Linked DNA regions of Homo sapiens. The protein of the gene in region 1 interacts with the protein of each later gene in a biochemical or structural test. Each region holds a gene or a part of one and is shown in the gene's direction. Other genes may lie near its edges. The genes, in order: EIF4E2, ARIH1 and ARIH2.

Region 1 (7,108 bases):
AGGCTTAGAGGGCAGAGTGGTTGGTTAGTTCCACTCTCAGGTAATAAAAGCACCAGATATAGGTCCATTAGGGTTCCCATTTACTGTCTTAGAAAGGAGCCCTAAGTGGTCCAGGGATCACAGGAGCATTGTTTCTTCTCTGACAATTATTTTTGTTTCCTGGTAGTGATCAGCAGCAAACCACTAAAAAGAAAGGAAGGTATATACTTTTCTTGGGTCTAGCAAAAACAAGATGCTGGGATGACTGTACCCCTCTTCAACCAAGATCTAAATGCAAGGGACCCCAGAGGCTATAGTGGGAGTTGGAAGCTAAGAAGGGAGGAAAAGGGTTTGCATCCCAAGGGTGTGCCCTGAAGAAGAGAGTTGTCCTGGGCCTAAGCAGAAGAACCTTTGAGATGTTTTTGATCAGGAGACAGAACTGGCCATGAGAGTATAGCTGGAACAAGTACAAACATTTATATGGGCAAGTTCAGAAGAGGAGACCCCAACTCAGCCTAGGTTGGAAGAGGTTAGGAAATGTTGCCAAGAGAAAGTGGCCCTCAATCTGAGTCCTGTAGGACAAGTTAACTAGGCAAAGAAGGACTTCTTGAGGAGAGACCACATGATGAGCATAACAGAAGGATAAAATGGGGGCACCAAAATTAGGGTGATACAACTGGAGTGAAAAGAGTTTGTTGGGACCAGGAAGGAGATGATATTGGGACATGTGAGCAGAGCAGGGGCCTTTGCACCATGCTGAGGCGTGGGTATATCTGTGTACCTTTTCTCCTCAGCTAGGTTCTTGGGGACAAGCACTCTGGTAGCTCATACACACCATAGATGCTTGGTAGATGTTGGTAATTTTTAATCTGTAGATCTTGTGTGCTAGACAGGCTCCTTTTGAAAAGGAAACCAAATGTTTAATAAAGGGGAAGTTTAATAAAGGGGAAGGGAATATCATAAGTACAGATGATGGTCTCCTGGAAGTCCAGGGAGGCTGAATAAAACCAGAGAGATGTTAGCATTAGCAACAAAATGAAACTCCCCTCCATTTTCTCTGCTCATCTGCTCCATTCTCTTATCTCATACTGGCTTTCTCTGCTTTTGCTCATTGTCTTAATTCTCTCAGGGCTTTTCTTGCATGGGGCCCATATGGCTGCCCCAGCTCCTGAGTCTATGATCTTTCATCTCCTGGATGAAATGCTGAGGGGAGGAATCTGCTCATATTTTTGAGCAAGGCTCTGGGGCATAGGTTATTGCCCAGGCTGGACTACCCTTTGGTCAGGTGCACTTCCTAGTTGTGTCTTGACCAGGGTAGGGATGGGAAGGTTCATGGCACAGGGCATAACCTCCTGGGTATATCCTACAGCTAGGGCTGTGAAATGGGCAGAGCAGGCACCCCAACATGTGACTAGCTCATTCATTCTAATATTTATTGGATACTTTTAATGTACTAGGCACTGGGGATTCGTGGGCAAAAAAAACCAGACCACAAATACAAAGTACCCTGCAACATGTTTATGTGTCAGCATAGGGTAGTATCTGAATTATAACTGGAGCATTTCTAGTACCATTCTTGAGAACTGCCTAATTTCGTTTGACCACACATATAGTTATTGGGGCGAGAAAGATGATTGGAGAGAAGATCTGTGATGAATTAATGGTCCAGCCCTAAAATAAATGGCTTTCTTATTGTCTTTGCAAACTCACCTTCCATTTATCTTTTTGTCTGGATCCGGTGATTTTAGGTGTACCTGAAAGCCTTGGGGTAGTTTCACTGCTCATGAAAGGGTAATCCCTAAAGTTCGTTTGACTCTGTGCTTATGAAGCAAGAACACATTTATTCTTTCTTTCAGTCATTTATTTTTCCTTTTGGTTTACCATTTATTCAGCATCTTCTAGTGCCGCATGTTAAGGCAACATCTTGCCCTGGGTGCTGGAGATACCGAGATGAAATAAGACACTGCTCTAAGGGAACTCTCTCTCTAGTAGGGAAAGCAGACATGGGAGGAATGGTGTGACAGACCGAAGGGGTGGTGTTTGCAAATGGCACCGATACGGCAACATAGATTGCTAGAGGAGGAGGATCCTGGCTGGCAGGAGTCAGATTCTAGAGGATCTTACATTTTGCTGTACTTTATCTTAGAGGGTAGGCATCAAAAAGCGAGGGACAGTTGAAAGTTTAAAGCATGCAAGTTAAATGTCAGATTTGCACTTAAAAAGATAATGCTAGTGAAAGGATGGATAGAGAGTGAGAGATTTGTGTCAGGAAGACCAGGAATTTATTATATGATTGACGTGTCAGGAGAAGAGGGCCTAAACTAAAGTAGTGACAGTGAGTGTAGAAGAGGTGGTAAGGAGAAGTGGCAAAGCAGATAGTACGTTTTTAACCTTCATTTGAAATGCCATAGCATTAGAGACTCTTCTCATTTTTTACTCCATTTTTGGCAGGGAAAACAATCCCTTAAACTGTATACCTTAAACATTCCCTTTAACTGGTTCTTTGTGTGGCTTTTTAGAAAACTGAAAGACAGTGCTTTGTGGAGTTCACAAGTTAGCTGATGGGTGTTTCGTTTTTGTTTAATCCTAATTTGCCTGTCTGTGTTATTTTGCCCTTCTTACATCTCAGGGCCTGAATTTGAGTGACTTTGGGTTGGTTACATAGTAGTTCGTATGACCTGGTGGCTTTGTTAGGTAAGCAAGAATTGACTTCGTCACAGAATTGTATTGTGTTGCCTTTCCATTCAGTTTGAAAGATGATGACAGTGGGGACCATGATCAGAATGAAGAAAACAGCACACAGAAAGATGGTGAGAAGGAAAAAACGGAACGAGACAAGAATCAGAGCAGTAGCAAGAGAAAGGTGAGTGTTGGCTGCACAGATGTAGTTGCCTTTGAACTTGAGACTTTTATTATCTTGTGGAATCTGTTTATCTGGAAGATACCAGATTAACTTGATGGCATCCTGTGTTGGAATATCTGACTTTGTTCTCAGAAAAACATTGTGCAATCATTGATGTTCATTTTCAGACCTAGAACTTTTCTCTTGCCACAGAATCTTGAGATGCTGCCTTGCTTTCAACGTTCTCCTAGCCTGAGATGGAGATTAGTCCTGGAGCTTAACAAGGCTGTTAGCTGCTTCATAAGCCACTGCTGAGTGTTTCAAATCCTACATACCCCTTGAAATTGTAGACAGTTTAGTCAGCAATAGTCTAAGGTGAAAGTGACTTGGAAAAGGGAAAACTTAGGGAATGAGAGAGAGAGAGAGATCAATTTTTTCCTTGAAATATCAAAGCAGGCTGGGTGCCATGGCTCATGCCTGTAATCCTAGCACTTTGGAAGGCCAAGGTGGGTGGATCACTAGGTCAAGAGATCGAGACCATCCTGGCCAACATGGTAAAACCCCATCTCTACTAAAAATACAAAAATTAGCTGGATGCTGTGGCGCGTGCCTGAAGTCCCAGCTACTGGGGAGGCTGAGGCAGGAGAATCGCTTGAACCCAGGAGGCAGAGGTTGCAGTGAGCCGAGGTCGCGCCACTGCACTCCAGCCTGGCAACAGAGTGAGACTCCGTTTCAAAAAAACAAACAAAGAAATATCAAAGCAATCACTAATTCATTTATTCTACAATATTGAGTAACCCTCCAAGGGTTACTAGCATTTTATGCTAGATGCTAAGAGGACACAAAGGTGAATGAGACTGTGGAAGGGGCTTACGTTTAATAGTACCAATAATAATACTGACATCTGTTGTGCACGTACTCTGTGCCAGGCACTGTGCTCAGCATTGTATATCCACTGATTCATTTGATCCTCTCAGCAGTATTGTGAGATGGTTGTTACAATTTTCCTCATTTTGCAGGTAAGAAGATGAGGCACAAACAGGTTAAGTAACTTGACAGTGATGAATCTCATAGAGGAGGCAGTGCTTGGACTGGGCATATGCTGAGATAAGATACAAAGATGAATACCTATTATATGAGGGAGAAAGTTACAAAGGCCATAAGAACACAGGTAAAGTGTTTCAGGAATTTAGAATCAGTTAACCACTGAGGAAATGTACTGTGTAAGCAGAATCTTTGGCACATTGCAGATAGTTGAGGTTGTATATCCTTTTTTAATTGTGGAGGTGGTAAGGATTGACACTGCAAAATGTTCTCTCAGTCTCAGACCACGTGACAAATGCCCAGGACTAACACACCTTCTTTACTTCCCAGGCTGTTGTCCCTGGACCGGCAGAGCATCCCCTGCAGTACAACTACACTTTTTGGTACTCCAGGAGAACCCCCGGCCGTCCCACGAGCTCACAGAGCTATGAACAGAATATCAAACAGATTGGCACCTTTGCCTCTGTGAGTTCTTGGTGAATTAATGGAGTGTGCCTTGATAGTTCGTTCATGCCTGTATTGATATGATGTTTATTTACTTTCCTAGTAACCTATTTAAGATTCTGGTTTTCTTAATTGACTGACCTGAGTCTCCGGAGTCAGATTTGTTCATTCTTAGGTTTCTCACTAGATATCCATGGTTAGCATGTAGGTATCAACAAATATGAGAATTGTAGAGTTGATCAGAAGGGCATAATACAAAAGAACAGATTTGGGTTTTTTTATTTTTATTTTTATTTTTTAATTGAGACAGAGTCTCTTGCTCTGTCTCCCAGGCTGGAATGCAGTGGTATCATCTCAGCTCATTGCAACCTCCGCTTCCTGGGTTCAAGCAATTCTTCTGCCTCAGCCTCCCAAGTAGCTGAGATTACAGGCATGTGCCACCACGCCCAGCTAATTTTTGTATTTTTAGTAGAAACGGGGTTCCACCATGTTGGCCAGGCTGGTCTGGAACTCCTGACCTTAGGTAATCCACCCGCCTTGGCCTCCCAAAAGGCTGGATTACAGGAGTGAGCCGCTGCACCTGGCCCTGTTTTTTTTTTTGTTTGTTTTGTTTGCTTGTTTGTTTTTTTTTTTAAGTATATATTTATGGAGTCCTTACTAAGTTCAAAGTGTCATGGATACAGAAGTTTATAATACATGGTGTCTATCTTCATGAAGTTTGACAGTAAAGTGAAAAATTTTGAAAGTTTTGTATTTAAGAACCTCCCATTAGGGTTTTGGCTGTATTAATGATTATGCATAAAATATCTTTTTCCTGTGTTCAGAAAGAAAATGAAATCTCTAATAATTGCTTTTGTGGGTACTGGCAGTCAGAGAGCCCAGACTGTCTCATCTCTCTCCCAGGTGACTTGGTTTGTGTACCCCAAGAATCCATCTGCAACTAACACCACTCTAGTTGAACAAAGGTTATTATGTACCCAGTGTGTGCTGTACATTCAATCTCTGGGCAGAATCAAATGTGGGGTTTGTCATTTTCTTGAAATTGGTGAAGTATTAGTCCTGTTTAAAATGCAGAAACTACGGGGGAGCGGGGAGGGATAGCATTGGGAGATATACCTAATGCTAGATGACGAGTTAGTGGGTGCAGCGCACCAGCATGGCACATGTATACATATGTAACTAACCTGCACAATGTGCACATGTACCCTAAAACTTAAAGTATAAAAAAAAAAAAAAGAATGATTCAGTGTAGTTGTATGCTAGATATATTATATGGAATTATCAGCAGTTTACCAGTTGGTTCTTTATTAGTACTCCTGATGTCTTAAACAAAAATGAATAATTGTTTATCTTTTCTCAAAGTGTCTCATCTGTTCAGTAACAATCACGGTTTTCTCCAACAGTCTTGCATATTACTTTTTTTTAAAGTGCTTTGGTTTGAAAAAAATAAAAAAATAAAATAAAATGCAGAAACTAGAAAAGAATACTCCAGTAGGAAATACTACAACAAACTGCTAAGGAGGAAGGACATATAATACATACTTTATTTGTATAATTTCCTTCCAACATTATGATAGCCCTATGAGGTCAGTGATATTATCCATGTTTTACAAATGAGGAAAGTAAAACTTGGGTTAAGTGTCTGATCTAAAGTCTCAAGTTATGGTGGGGCACGGTGGCTCATGCCTGTAATCCCACCACTTGGGGAGGCTGAGGTGGGAAGATTGTTTGAGCCCAGGAGTTTGAGACCAGCCTAGGCAACGTGATGAGACCCTGCCTCTACAAAAAAAGTTTAAAATTAGCTGGCTTGGAGAAAACGGGAGCATTAAAAAAAAAAAAAAAAAAAGGCTGGCCATGTTGGCATGCACCTGTGGTCCCAACTACTCAGGAGGCTGAGGCAGGAGGATCAGTTGAGCCTAGGAGGTTAAGACTACAGTGAGCCTTTTTTGTGCCACTGCACTCTAGCCTGGGCAACAGAGATAGATCCTGTCTAAAAAAATTTTTAAATTCTCGAGTCAGTCATAATTCACTGGATTAAGTCGAGGAGCCAGTATAATTGAAACTCAGGTACAGAAGCTTCCAGATAGCTGAACACATGGAGGTGCCTGGAGGGTGGTGCGCCTAGAGGGGACATAGAAGCTCCCTGAACCTTCCTCCATACCTTCCCCCATACCTTGCCCTACGCATCTCTTCATCGTATCCTTTGTTTATAATAAACCAGTAATGTAAGGTACCAAGACAATAACCGGGGAAAGAATCGTCTTTTCAACAAACATTGCTGAGACAACTGGATTTCCAGGTGCAGAAGAATGAATTTGCATTCCTTCCTGACACCATACACAAAAAGTAACTAAAAATGGATCATAGACCTAAATGTAAGAGCTAAAATTATAAAATTCTTAGAAGAAAATATTAGTAAATCCTAATGACCTTAGGTTAGGCAAAGCCTTCTTAAGTAACACACTAAACGCACAAGCAGCAAAAGATTAAATACTTGGCTGGGCGTGGTGGCTCACGCCTGTAATCCTTGTACTTTGGGAGGCCAAGGCAGGAGGATGACTTGATCTCAAGAGTTTGAGACCAGCCTGGGCAACATAGTGAGACCCCATCTGTATAGGATTTCATCAAAATTCAAAACTTTTCTGCTTCAAAGGACGCTATCAAGAAAGTGAAAAGATAGCCTACAAAATGGGAGAAAATATTGCAAATCATATCTAATACTTGTATCTAGAATACTCTTACAACTCAGTTATAATCTGCTTAATATGAAATCAACATCATTACTATGCTGAGCTGATA
Region 2 (7,434 bases), on another chromosome or scaffold:
TAAATGTATACGAATATTTTTTTACCTTACTAGGACTTGGGGACAATGGGAGTGCCAAATTACCAACAATGATTATCTCGGCACCAAAAAGGTATTAATTTGTGTATTTTCTTTTTCAAGAACCTTTTCCTGTTGTTGTTTAGAGACTACTGTGCTTCTAGCTAGTAATCACCATCGCTGGGAAAACAATAACACAGGCAATACCTTTAAGAACAAGTCATTAAAAAACAATACAAAATAATGTATGTGGGTCATCCCTTGGCCAATGTGGGGCCAGAGAGAAGTTGTTCTACTGGTTTTCCTTAAATAGCACCATAACCTAACCTGAATCTAAGATGGTTTCCAAAATATGTATAGAACGAATGTTAACTAATTAATTCTATAAAAATATGTATAGAATGAAAGCTAATTAACCATCAAACCATGGTTATAATGGTTTATCCATGGATAGGAGACCCAGAAATTCAGAAGCACTGTAATACTTTTCATGATATTAATAAAAAATGAAGTCATGAGATCATGGAAAAGGTTTCTGAGAAAAAAATCAGACCAATTTTCTTCCCTAGAAAATGGGGATGACACAGGCTGTGTACATATAAGCATAATTAAAATAAAACTGATTAGGCTGGGTGTGGTGGCTCACGACTATAATCCCAGCACTTTGGGTGGCCGAGGTGGGAGGATCATGAGGTCAGGAGGTCGAGACCAGCCTGCCAACATGGTAAAACCCGTCTCTACTAAAAATACAAAAATTAGCCAGGCATGGTGGTGCGTGCCTGTAGTCCCAGCTACTCAGGAGGTTGAGGTAGGAGAATTGCCTGAACCCGGGAGGCAGAGGTTGCAGTGAGCCGAAATTGCTCCACTGTGCTCCAGCCTGGGCGACAGAGTGAGACTCCGTCTCAAAACAAACAAACAAACAAATAAACAAAACTGATTAAAAGATTATAAAGGTGACTTATGACACTTTTTAAAAGCTCTGATTTTGTGAGTACTTAGCTATGTGCCAGGTACTGTGTCAAATGCTTTAAATACATAATTTCATTTGATACTCACAAATAATCCTATGAGAACAGGAATTATGATCCTCCAAAGTAAACCTCTAAAAGAGAGGCTTAGTAATTTGCTTAAGGTTACAGACAGCAACGGGGCAGGGGGGTGCATAGGCAAATTCAGATCCATCTGCTTCAATAACTTTTATCCTCTTCACCTTTATCCTATGCCGCTTCTAAACATTGCTGGTGTAAACTCTGGTAAAATTGTATCTCCAGCTCTAATTTTTCCTGACCTTCAGTCTTGTATCTTAGTTTATGGAACTGCCTACTCAACACCTCTACCCTGATGTCTAACGAGCACCTCAAATAACATGTTTCAGTGAGTGATGCCACCATTCACCCAGTCGCTCAAGCTCCAAATACAGTAGGCATCCTTGTTTCCTCCATCAAACCCACTGTCAAGCCACCAGCAAATATTTTGGCTCTTCTTTCAAATTCTATCTCAATCTGACCACTTCTTATCACCTCCACTGCCACAACCCTAGTTCAGGCTATTATCTACTTACCTGGACTACTGAGATAGCCTCATAATTGCTTTGTTTTCGTAGTCCATTCACCATAAAGCAGTCAGTTATCTTTTTAAAAACACAGATCATATAGTTTCACTCTTCTGCTTAAAACTCGTTAATAATTGCCACTGGAATAATGTAAACTTCTTAAGATGACCTACAAGGCCCCTACTGGCCCCCTACCTTGATCTGCTTTCTCTGACTTTATCCCTTAACACCCTCTTCTTTGCTCAGCATGTCTCAAGTCACATTGGTCCTGATATTTTCAAATTCCTCTGTGACTAAAAGTCACATGTTTTGAGAAGATGTGAAAGGGCAGGGCTGAAGTTTGAGGAAACTGCAAAGGTGTGAAAGAGTTGTCGAGAGTGGGAGAACAATCCAGAAAAATTTAATAGGATTGCTGGGAATTATTGAAGGTTGAGTTGTGCTTGGTGATTGAAATTAAGTAGGCTGGGTGTAGTGGCTCACACCTGTAATCCTAGCATTTTGGGAGGCCAAGGTGGGAGGATTGCTTGAGGCCAGGAGTTCCAGACCAGTCTGAGCAACATAGTGAGATGTATCTGTAAAAAAAAATAAAAAATTAGCCAGGTATGGTGGTGTGCACCTGTAGTACCAGCAACTCAGGAGGCTGAAGTGGGAGGATCACTTGAGCCCGGGACATTGAGCCTTCAGTGGTGATCGCACCACTGCATTCCAGCCTGGGTGCCAGAGCAAGAGTGTCTCCAAAAAAAAAAAAAAAAAGAAGAAATGTAGTAATAGAATACAGATGGCTATGCACATTTCTCTAATAGTGGTCAGCTGCTCCATTTATCAAAGTGGAGACTATGGATGGTAGGGTTCATTCAAGATAGGGGTACAATGAAAAGAAAGGTGAGGCAAAGGAGTTTAGGGTACTGACGAGTGTTACTGAATTTTTCTGTAGGTAATATCACAATGGAGACGGGGTGGACAGAAGTGTTCCTTGTGTCCATGGCTTGCCTTAGTTGTGGCAGCAATCTAGAATTGCTAAATAGAAACACTGAATCAAAGAACCTAGACCTGGCTGGGCGCTGTGGCTTATGCCTGTTATCACAGCACTTTGGGAGGCCGAGGCAGGTGGATCACCTGAAGTCAGGAATTCGAGACCAGCCTGGCCAATATGGTGAAACCCCATCTCTACTAAAAATACAAAAATTAGCCTGGGGTGGTGGCATGCGCCTGTAGTCCCAGCTACTCAGGAGGCTGAGACAGGAGAATCGCTTGAACCTGGGAGGCAGAGGCTGCAGTGAGCTGAGATCACCACTGTACTCCAATCTGGGCAACAGAGCGAGACTCCGTCTCAAGAAAAAAACAAACAACAACAACAACAACAAAAACCTAGACTACCAGTATTGAGGTTAAATGCTTTACTTTGTAAATCCTGAGGTTAAGAAATATAATTATCGGTATTTTAAAACTTACAAAATGGACAAATTGGAAGAGGCTTTTTAACATTATAATGGAATTTTTCACTTTTCAAAATCAATTTCCAAAGGGAACCTATAGGTTGAACAGTAAGATTTATCAACAAATCAGGGGTTTTGATTTTAAAAGGTTTTCAATCTGGCCAATTCTTCAGATTATCTCAAGAGGGAGCCTTCTTATGCCTCTTCTTCCTTCATAACACTTCTCTGGCTCGCATGTCCTGTTTGCAAAGATTTAAGCCCACTCTTAGGCATAAAATGCTCTTAACTGACATGACCCCTGACTAACTTGCCTAATATTTTGCCATGTACCCTCCATGCACTTTAAGCTCCCCAAACTATTACTTACTTGACACCTTCTGCGCTTTTGCTTGTTCTCTGCGGCTAGACCATCTTCCCTACCTTCTCTGTTGAACTCCTAGCCATTCATCAACACTCAGCTCACATAGCACACTTTCAGATGAGATTCAAGCATTATCTCTCTGGCTACATTTGGCCCTTGTAGATATTTCTATTATTGCCTGTATTTTGTTGAAGCATTCATGTCTTTTATGTACTACATAGTACATAATATATCTACATTACAAAGCATTTTTATGATTCATGTTTTGGGGCATCCAGCGGTTAAAATAGGGCAAGGGTTATGTGGTCTTGGCCAGGTCCCTTTTCCTTTCTGAGCTTCAGGTTCCTCAGGTATAAAATGGGTACTATGGCTCCGTGAAGATGAGACAGAATATATGTAAAGCCCTTACACAGTGCTCAATTCATGAAAATCATCGCTGTTTACATTGTTTAGGGCCCTCAAGAGGCGCTCTTGTCAGCGGGGTGGAGGAAATGCCTCTTTAAAATGACGTCATTATAGGAGACTTAAAAACCACTGCACGTCTGTACAAGTGGACAGAATCACACAGCTACCTAAAGTGGGTTCACCTGTCATACAGTTTAGAGGTTCCACTTACAACAGGTTTCCATCAGTAGCCAAAGCAACAGAAATTTTAGCTTAACGGCTGAGGGCTTCCGGGATTACCGCAGGGCGGGCGGGAAGCGCCTTTCCGCTCCGGAGGGAAGGCCGCGTCCCCAAGGGACTGCCTAAGTGGGCTGGATCCCTATGGCCTGCGGCAGACACCACCACGTAGGCGGTCCAGGGGTCCCTCTCTCGGTGACTGGTGACCAGGAGGCCGCAATCTCTTCACATAAAAGGTCTACGGGTTTCCGCTCGGCCCTCACAGCGGCAGCGGATCGAACCAGGAAAGCAATTCCCGCTCGGCTCCCCTCGGGTCCCAGGCCCAGGAAGGCCGGGCCGTGGGGTCTCCCCGGGCTCCACGCAGGGGCGGTGGGGCGGGGCGCAGTGACGCAAAGAGGAGTGACGCGACGACGCAGCGCGACGCGGTGACGCACGCCCCTTTGTTGGCTCAGTAGCGATAGCAGCGGCCGTGGAGGTGGCGTTGGGGACTGTTTTCTCTCGGAGGCCGGAGCGGAGCCGCGTCTGACTGAGGCGGGCAGCAAGCGGCCCCCTCGCTCCCTCCCTCCCTCCTCCGCGCCCTCCCCGCCGCCACCAGCCGTCAAACGCCAACCGCCGCTCCTGGGGAGGAGCCGCGGCTCGCGGGGCCGGAGCCAGGCCTGCGTCCGGACATCAGCCGGAGCCGGAGCGAGAGCCGGGGCCTCGGCGTCCCCGCCCTCTCCCCGCCTCGGCCAGCGTCCGCCGGGCCCCCGCGCGTCGCGCCATGGACTCGGACGAGGGCTACAACTACGAGTTCGACGAGGACGAGGAGTGCAGTGAGGAGGACAGCGGCGCCGAGGAGGAGGAGGACGAAGACGACGACGAGCCGGACGATGATACCCTGGATCTGGGCGAGGTGGAGCTGGTGGAGCCCGGGCTGGGCGTCGGCGGGGAGCGGGACGGACTGCTGTGCGGGGAGACGGGCGGTGGCGGCGGCAGCGCTCTGGGGCCCGGCGGTGGCGGCGGCGGCGGCGGCGGCGGTGGTGGTGGCGGGCCGGGGCATGAGCAGGAGGAGGATTACCGCTACGAGGTGCTCACGGCCGAGCAGATTCTACAACACATGGTGGAATGTATCCGGGAGGTCAACGAGGTCATCCAGGTGAGGGTGGCCGCCGCGCCAGCTGGACCGGGCCCGACGGGGGAGCGGATTCAGGCGGCACGCGCGGTCCCGAGGGACAGGCCTGGGCCTGGTGCGCAGCCTAGCCCGGTGCCTCCCGGCCTTGTCTTCTCCGCTGCCTCTGCTGGGGATAGAGGGTGTCGAAAGCAGAGGTTCGCCGATTAGCCGGGTGTGGGGAGGTGCGCTGGGGGCGGTGCTTCCCAAGTCCTGCTATGGCGGAGGCCTTCGGTCGCCTAAGCCTTCTCTTGCGGGCAATTTCTGCCAGTCCCTGGGCCGGGTGTCCTTTCTCTGGCCGGGCGATCGCCTACTGGGGCGGGGCGGAGGAGGTGGGGTGGAGAAGAGGAGTCAGGAAGAATTGGGCCCTGACGGGACTTACCCCGGCCGTAGCCTCATTTGAGCACTTTTGGAAGGGATTAGAGTAGGCCTAAGAGCAGCTTGGTGTACAGTTGCCCCAAGTGGGCACCAGTTAATAAAGAAATGGATCTTGGCAGTCTCAAGTGCCTACTTAAAGGTGGGGGAAGGGAAGTATTTCTCGGAAGAGGTGCTGATGGGCCTTCTTTTCAGATGGTGAGGCTTCTGCTTACATCTTTTTTATGTCTTTGCTGTTTGGGACCTAATTGCTACTTTTTCTAGTCGTAGCAGATGACTTGCTTGAAGCTGTTGGAATAGTTACTGCATATTGCATACCCTTCCTTGTAGCTAAAACAACAACAAAACGCAGTGTTGTCTAATATTGGACAAGACTCTATTGTGAGTTAGAAAGCAGAGGTTTTCTGCTTGTGAACTCCTTTCTCTGATATTTTCTATTTTGTGGTAAGTTAGGCTTGGTGTAAGTTGATAACCACATCTCATTTAACCATGTGCGTCAGATTTTGCATTTTTGAGCTTTAGAAACTCAAAAGTTTTCATTTGGGGAAAAAAAAAACCTCAGTTCTCCTGAGGAGTCAGGGATATGGCTGAAGAATAAAAATGAAGCTTGATTCAGTGCAATTTTTAGAAAACCTGGAAGGAAACATATATGAGCAGCAAGTTACTATTGCCTCTTTTATCAGTATTATTTCTTTTTTGTTTAACTTAAATTGGTTGGCTAAATATTCATTGACAAATTAGAAGTATGTCACTGTCAACTCGTTGACTTTCTATTATTAACTGATTTTTATAGTATTATAAGTAACAGTTTTAAAAATTGAAGCATCTATTCAGGCACTGTTTCAATACAGTGTTTTGCATAATAGAAAAATCTCTGATATCTAGTGCCATTACTAAATAGTGGAAGTCTTCATTTTTAATCTAGAGAACACAGTCTAAGAAGGAAGTTGAGGATTGTAGAAGATAATTTTTTGTTTGTTTGAGACGGAGTCTTGCTTTGTCGCCCAGGCTGGAGTGCAATGGCGCAATCTCTGCTCACTGCAACCTCCGCCTGCCGGGTTCATGCAATTCTCCTGCCTCGGCCTCCCAAGTAGCTGGTACTACAGGCGCGCTCCACCATGCTCAGCTAATTTTTTGTATTTTTAGTAGAGACGGGTTTCACCATGCTGGCCAGGCTGGTTTCGAACTCCTGACCTTGTGATCCGCCTGCCTCGGCCTCCCAAAGCGCTGGATTACAGGCGTCAGCCACCGTGCCCGGCCTGTAGAAGATGCACATGTAAGAAAAATCTGATTAGGTAAGAAAAAATAAAAAGACAAAACAAGCCTGCCACCCAGAGACGTACAACAAAATGCGAACTGTAGTTATTTTTCTAGACCTTTGGATAGCCATTAATATGGTTCCACGTTAATAACAGTGGAACCATACTGTATGTTCTGTTTGTGTTTTCAGTGGAAAAACATTACAGAAATACTCTGAACAACCTTCTGTCAAGTAAATTTTTCGAGAACTTATATGATTATAGATCTGAACTAATTTATTTAATCAATCTGTTATTTGCCTTCCTTTTTATTTTCTAGTTTCTGGCTTTTATAAATATTGAAAATATCCTCATAGGTCAGTCTTTGAGTGTTCTTATTTTCTTGGGATAAAGTGAATTGCTGAGTCAAAAGAATTTGCTCATTTTCAATGCATTTGATACATACTACCACATTGCTTTCAGAAAAGTTATGCTAGTTTTCCCAACCAGTGTTTGATGGGCAAAAAAAACCTGGTGAGATTGAATTTATGTTTATTGGGCTTGGTATTTCTTTTTTAAATTGCCCCTCGCTTTTTGCTCATTTTATTCTCTTTTGCCCATTGCCCCTCTTTGGGATATTTATCTCTTACTGGTTTGTAAGACTTCTTTCTATTAATAGAGGTTGGAAATAGCAGTTATCTAGGTTT
Region 3 (7,108 bases), on another chromosome or scaffold:
CTTTAAAATGGTAGCAAGCACACCTAGCTAATTAAGGAGAGGGCATTGTTGCCACTATTAGGTGAAGGCTCCCAGGAGGAGAAAAATTGAACAACCTCTGGGTCTCCGGGTTTTGCTTTGGCTTCCCTAAAATGATTCAAGAGCCTCATTTTTGGGGAAGTCAGTAAGCCAAGTTATCCCTGGAGAGTGAATCCTGGGAAACAGGATTTACCATTGTCAGGGTCTGGAAGAGGCAGAATAGGCCAGATATAAAATCTAATAAGGTATTATTAGAACAATGTGTGTTCTAGACAACCAGGAGGACTTCAGACAAGTTTTGCTTCTCATAGCAGCCTTGACACAGATATAACAAGGCACATAGCCCATGTGCTCATGGAATGCAGAATATCAACAGGCCATTGTTCATCCAACAAAACTGTGGTTGGCTTCTCTCCATTAGACTGCAGTAATTCTTTGAGCATCTAACAATAATTTTTTGAACATATAGGGGATTTTTTTTTTTTTTTTTGAGACACAGTCTCGCTCTGTCACCTAGGCTGGAGTGCAGTGGTGTAATCTCGGCTCACAACCTCCGCCCTACAGGTTCAACCAGTTCTCGTGCTTCAGCCTCCCAAGTAGCTACTGGCATGTGCCACCACACCTGGCTAATTTGTGTATGTGTGTGTGTGTGTGTGTGTGTGTGTGTGTGTGTGTGTGTGTGTATATATATATATATATATTTTTTTTTTTTTTGGTAGAGACGGGTGTTTCACCATGTTGGCCAGGCTGGTCTCAAATTCCTGACCTCAGGTGATCCATCCGCCTTGGCCTCCCAGAGTGCTGGTATTACAGGTGTGAGCTACCGCAAAAGCAGAATCATAATTCTGATTATGAACCATTGGATAGCTCTAGGTTTTATAGAAATGTGTTATTTGCCAGGCGCAGTGGCTCACGCCTATAATCCCAGCACTTTGAGAGGCAGAGATGGGCGAATCACTGAACACTGGGGGTTCTCGAGACCAGCCTGGCCAACATGGTGAAACCCCATCTCTACTAAAAATACAAAAATTAGCCAGCATGTTGGCAGGCACCTGTAGTCCCAGCTACTCGGGAGGCTGAGGCAAGAGAATCGCTTGAACCTGGGATGCAGAGGTTGCAGTAAGCCAAGATCGCGCCACTGCACTCCAGCCTGGGTGACAGAGTGAGACTCTGTCTCAAAAAAAAAAAGAAAAAGAAAAATAAGAAATGTGTTTTTTAAAATAGAAGAAAAAGGGGGAAAGCCTTTATTCTTAGTTTCATATACAAAAATCTTTCTAGGACAAGTGTGAGGGTAGGAAGCAGTAGGGAGGTCAGTTTGTACTGATGATGTGCGTTTAAGACAGTCAGGTCGGCCTCAGTTGGACTAGTTCCTCCTTCTTATAGTGGCATTGACATAGCAGACCAGTAGTCTGTATGGTCAGCATCTGCCTGTGTTAGATTAATAAGGCGCATGGCACATGTGCTCATGGAATAGAAATTATCCATAGGCTTTTGTTCCTATCAGCAAGTACAGGCTACAAGGACAGTAGGATGTGACAGGGATGAGAGGTGCACATTCCTTCGGGAAAGAGGCACCCTTGGGAAGTTGTGTTCAGGTGACCCCTTTGGGAGCAGGGTCTGTCTGTCTCACTCCTCTGCCTATGGAGGAAAGTGGAGTTGTCTTGTAGATGTAAATGACTCTTCCTCTGTTCTGCACAGACTTCTGCTGGATGTGTCTAGGAGATTGGAAGACTCATGGCAGTGAATACTATGAGTGCAGTCGTTACAAGGAGAATCCTGACATCGTGAACCAGAGCCAACAAGCCCAGGCGAGGGAAGCCCTCAAGAAGTACTTATTCTACTTTGAGAGGGTAGGTGTCCTCTCCTGTACCTTCCCCTACAGGGTAGGCTTCTTCCACTTGGCCTGCTGGTGGGATTCCCAGGGACTGGTAGACAGAGCTAGCCTGTGCACATAGAAGTCAGTGAATGGAGCTCCTGCAGTATCCCTGGTGCTGCCTCTATAGATGTGCCTTTCAAGCTCTATAGGGTATATCCCCAGCCAACAGGGAAGGACCTGGTACTGACCTTGGTTGAATGATGGATTGAAGGACAATGAAGGGCCATCAGACAGTCTTTTCCATCTAGTACCATCTTTTTTTTTTTTTCTTTTTTCTACGTTTTTAATTTTTATTTATTTTTTTCTTTCTGTCCTCACAATCTGTTCCCATAGTATCATCTTAGTAGTCAGATTTGGAAGGCAGTTTCTCCCAGGGAGCCCTTTAGAAGCCCAAAGAGCCCCATGCATAATGGTCTCTAAGCATAGTAGACCATCAGGGGCCTAGCTTTGCAGAGTCCTCAGGGCTCGAGTCCTGTTGCCCCAGAAGGGTAGAGCGATCTGGCAGTAAGCATACAGCTGCTCTGGACAGGTTAGAAGGATGGACTGAAGAAGACCTGCTCTTGCACTTTGGGGAATAAGTTAGAGGAGTCTGTGGCCATGTCCTGCCAGCAAGGTGTCTATCCTGAACTCCTGTGTAGACCTCTGCACCTTCATGGGACTCCTGTGGTTTTCTTCTTCTTCTGTGCCCTGTAGTGGGAAAACCACAATAAAAGCTTGCAGCTAGAGGCACAGACATACCAGCGGATTCACGAGAAGATTCAGGAGAGGGTCATGAACAATCTGGGGACATGGATCGACTGGCAGTACCTACAGAATGCTGCCAAGCTCTTGGCCAAGGTATCTACCACTTCACTCATCTTATCCCTGGTCCAGTGCCTGGCTCCGTCAGGCACAGACCTCTGATAGTGGGAAGCTCTGTTGAAAGAGGGTATTTTAGCACCCTGTGCAGCCTTTCATGCTTCTGCTTGTGGATCCACATTTTCATGTGCTGTGCCCATTAAGGACCCAGTCCTCTGATGGATGTCCAGGGGATTTATAAGAGTGTTGCACTGCCTCTGCCTGCAGGGAAAACTAGAGCACTTTTCTTCTCCTTTTGTCCTGTTTATGTATCACTCAAAGGAAAATAAAAGATTGTCTGATCACTTGAGGTCAGGAGTTTGAGACCAGCCTGGCCAACATGGTGAAATCCTGTCTCTAATAAAAATACAAAAATTAGCTGGGCATGGTGGTGCATGCCTGTAGTTCCAGCTACTTGGGAGGCTGAGGCACGAGAATTGCTTGAACCTGGGAGTCAGAGGCTGCAGTGAGCCGAGATCACACCATTGCACTCCAGCCTGGGTGACAAAGCAAGACTGTCAAAAAAAAAAAAAAAAAAAAAAAAAAGATTGGGCAGGGTGCAGTGTCTCACGCCTATGATCCCAGCACTTCGGAAGGCCAAGGCAGGTGCATTGCTTGAGCCCAGGAGTTTGAGACCAGCCTGGGCAACATGAGAAAACCCCGTCTCTACAAAAAAAATACAAACGTTCGCCTGGTGTGGTGATGCACACCTGTAGTCCTGGCTACTTGGAAGGCTGAGGTGGGAGGATCGCTTGAGTCTGGGAGGCAGAGTTTGCAGTGAGTGGGGATTGCACCACTGCACTCCAGCCTGGGCAACAGAACAAAACCTTGTTTCAAAAAAAAAAAAAAGGTTGTCTTTGGCTAAGCATTGAGATAGATGTGTTGACTCTGATGTCCTACTCAAGAGGGAAAATCCATTGAGGCAGCTGCTGATAATCAGTTTGTAAAAGAAACTGTGGGTGTTCTGTGACCATCGTTGTTTGTTTTTTCCCTCATGTCTTTTCCCAATTCATCCTCTATTTGGCCTAGTATCATTTCTTTCAGGCCTATATCTATAGAGCTGGGCTAATTTGCATGTTGAGGGTAGGAATTGTAAGAGCCACCTGAGATGCAGGTAGCTTAGAATCACAGACACAGGTTCCTTCTCTTCTCTCCTGTTGCAGTGTCGATACACCCTGCAATACACCTACCCATATGCATATTACATGGAGTCCGGACCCAGGAAGAAGCTGGTAAGGCAAAGCAATTTTTCTACTCTGTCCCGTTAGCCTCAAAGGTGCCCTTCTCTACCAGCACTTTGCAGGAGAGTGAGGACCAGACCTTGGTCATTGGGAGGGCAAAGTTAAAACAAAACTCTAATTGCAAAATTCCACTTCTGCTCTGGGCACCTCCAAAATAGATCTCAGGTGCTATTATTTTGTGTCATATAAGGCACATGCACCTAATCCTCTGAACAACTGTATTTAAAGGGCGATTGGCTAAAAAGGTCTGTGGCCAGTGGGAGGCCAGTAGTGCCCATGCTTGGGAGGGATATTTAGCATGCATGTCCTTAAGATATATTTGACTGTTTTATACCTTGTTTAATTCTTCATCTTAGAGTTGAATTTGAATATGAATTTATTGTTATTACCAATAGTGTTAATAAACTAGTAATTAACATTTTTGTTTAAATGCTGGAAAACAGAAAAGCATTTACATTGTCCAGAGAGAAATTACCACTGTCAGCATTTTCCAGCCTTTTAAAATTAACATTGTGTATATATAATCAAGGTTATATATAACATTTTATTGTTATAACAGTTTATTGTTATAGCTGTTATGATTTACCTGCCTGGTAAATACCATTTTGTTAATGGTTGCATAAATGTGTCATTACATGATTGTACCATCACTTGGGACATTTATTCTTTCTTTCTTTCACTGCTATAAATAGGACATTGAGGAATATTTTTGTGCATAAAGCTGTATATCTTCTTAGATGTATGATTACTAAGTATTTAAGTTTGAATATTTTTAAGGCTCTTGATTTGCTGGAGGACTGAAAAAAATGAAGTGATAGTGTCTGAGAATATTCATTTGACTTATTTTTTACAGCATCCATTCCCTTTCATGTTGGGAGTGTTCTCTTTAGTGGCTTAAATTCTTTGCCTGCCTTTGGGAGTGTGGAGGGTGGAGTGGACCTTTTGAGGGTCGAGGGTGAATGTGGCCTTGCTGTTTGGATAGCCTTTTGTTTGGATTCTGGCTCTGGGCACAGGGAATAACACTACTTTCTGAGGACAGTATCAGGATTGTCTGTAGTTCCTGTGAGCCTGAGGTGCTGCATGTGCCCACCCCCGTGTACAGGCCCTGCCCCAGCCACAGCCCACTCACCTTTTGACCCTCCTGCTCTGCCTATACAGTTTGAATACCAGCAGGCTCAGCTGGAGGCTGAGATCGAAAACCTCTCATGGAAAGTGGAGCGTGCAGACAGCTATGACAGAGGGGTAAGTGCCTACTGTCCTCTTGGATTCTATATTGCAGGTAGAGGACTGGCATGGTAATAGGTGACAGCGTTGTTGGCTTGTGCACTGGTAGCTGCTGCTAAGAATGGGAAGGGCAGTGTTTTTGACTCCTTGGAGGTCCTGGAGGGTGTTTGTGGCTTTGGCTACTCCTTGCTCCCAGGCCTGGGCCATGCAAGCACACACCTTGTTTCTCTGATGCAGGACTTGGAGAACCAGATGCATATAGCGGAGCAGCGGAGGAGAACCCTGCTGAAAGATTTCCATGACACCTAAGTTGGGATGTGGATGTGCCGGGGTGAGGAAGATGTGGCTGCAAGGTCTCCCGGCTGCCATACTGCATGCTGCAGGCTCTGCCTTTCATGACCCCAGGCAACAGCCAGGGCCCCACTCCTGAGAGACACTGGCAACACCTCTTAGTTGATTTCTGTTTTCTTCTCTTTTCACTTTTTGTTTCTACCAGGGTAGAGGCCATGTTGAACTGGCCTCTTTTCAGGACTTTTATTTCCCCCTGGATGGTTGTTGGGAGGGAGGGAAAGTGTTTTCTGAATGGCTATTAATAGTATTAGATCATTACAACTTATGTAACTTTCAAAGGTTGTACAATTATACAAAAAAAAAAAAAAGGCAAACTATAGGATAACACAGAGCCCTTTTTGAAAATAAATTGGCATTGGAGTGTTTTACCCTCTAGCTGTTTTACTTAGAATGTAACATATGCTGCCTACCCACCTCAAAATGTCTGTACTGCAAGAGGGCCCTGGGCCTCTGCTTTCCATATTCACGTTTGGCCAGAGTTGTAGTCCCAAAGAAGAGCATGGGTGGCAGATGGTAGGGAATTGAACTGGCCTGTGCAATGGGCATGGAGCACAAGGGGTCACAGCATGCCTCCTGCCTTACCGTGGCAGTACGGAGACAGTCCAGAACATGGTCTTCTTGCCACGGGGTGTTGTTGTCTCTGGTGGTGCTGCATGTCTGTGGCTCACCTTTATTCTTGAAACTGAGGTTTACCTGGATCTGGCTACTGAGGCTAGAGCCCACAGCAGAATGGGGTTGGGCCTGTGGCCCCCCAAACTAGGGGGTGTGGGTTCATCACAGTGTTGCCTTTTGTCTCCTAAAGATAGGGATCTACTTTTGAAGGGAATTGTTCCTCCCAAATAAATTTGCTTTACCTTGGTCCTTTCTTTTGTGCCAGTATTCAAGTGGTATAGCTCTGAGCAGGGTCACATTTGGCCAAACCTGACACTGTCTTGCTGCATTCTCCTTTGGCAAACATCAGGGTCAGAATTCAGGATAGCCCTTCCTAGGGCACTGGACTTTCTGGCATGGGGGCTGTGTTTGCACAAGTTATTTTCATGTTACCTGGAGAGTGTCCAGAGGCTGCTCTGAGGCTGAGGTGTGTTCCCCCTTGCCTGGTTCCAGCTGTCAGAGGGATACCATCCTAGGGTCTGGGAATCCAAGGCCACGAGACTCCTTGGTTTGTGGTCCGAGATCCTGTACTAAGGAGGGTCTGGCCAGAGGAACAGACCAGCTTTTGCACAATGAAGCGCAAGGGAACAAGTGGTTTGCCTGGTGTCCTACCTGTCCTGAACCTGGTCCTGTGGGCCATTGAAAAGTTAGATCTGTGATCTCTGGGGTTTTTGTGGCTTTGTTCAATGCTTCCACTCTAGGGCAGGCAGAGCAGTCTATACTCTCCCAAGCCTGCTTGACCTCCAAGTAGAGCTGATACAGAGATCTGTGAATATTGTGATAGAAATTCTTTGGTATTCATACATTTCAGCTGCAAGTCAGCAATTTCCCAGGTACCATGTAAGCTATAAAACAGTCATTCTTAAAGACAGAGGATAGCTGTGACTCATGGGATCATGAGGTCCATGGC

The links.
Region 2: the proteins of EIF4E2 (region 1) and ARIH1 form a complex in vitro, tested with the Homo sapiens proteins (one study listed by BioGRID).
Region 3: of the proteins of EIF4E2 (region 1) and ARIH2, one has a biochemical effect on the other in vitro, tested with the Homo sapiens proteins (one study listed by BioGRID).

Annotation. Positions count from the first base shown.
Region 1 is NC_000002.12:232,553,689-232,560,796, forward strand, and holds part of EIF4E2 (eukaryotic translation initiation factor 4E type 2), read left to right. Parts: intron 1-2,727; coding exon 2,728-2,842; intron 2,843-4,195; coding exon 4,196-4,330; intron 4,331-7,108. UniProt on the Homo sapiens protein: Recognizes and binds the 7-methylguanosine-containing mRNA cap during an early step in the initiation. Acts as a repressor of translation initiation.
Region 2 is NC_000015.10:72,469,913-72,477,346, forward strand, and holds the start of ARIH1 (E3 ubiquitin-protein ligase ARIH1), read left to right. Parts: upstream 1-4,417; 5' UTR 4,418-4,727; coding exon 4,728-5,102; intron 5,103-7,434. UniProt on the Homo sapiens protein: E3 ubiquitin-protein ligase, which catalyzes ubiquitination of target proteins together with ubiquitin-conjugating enzyme E2 UBE2L3.
Region 3 is NC_000003.12:48,977,766-48,984,873, forward strand, and holds part of ARIH2 (E3 ubiquitin-protein ligase ARIH2), read left to right. Parts: intron 1-1,716; coding exon 1,717-1,868; intron 1,869-2,587; coding exon 2,588-2,731; intron 2,732-3,868; coding exon of another isoform or gene 3,869-3,894; coding exon 3,895-3,963; intron 3,964-5,130; coding exon 5,131-5,214; intron 5,215-5,433; coding exon 5,434-5,505; 3' UTR 5,506-7,108.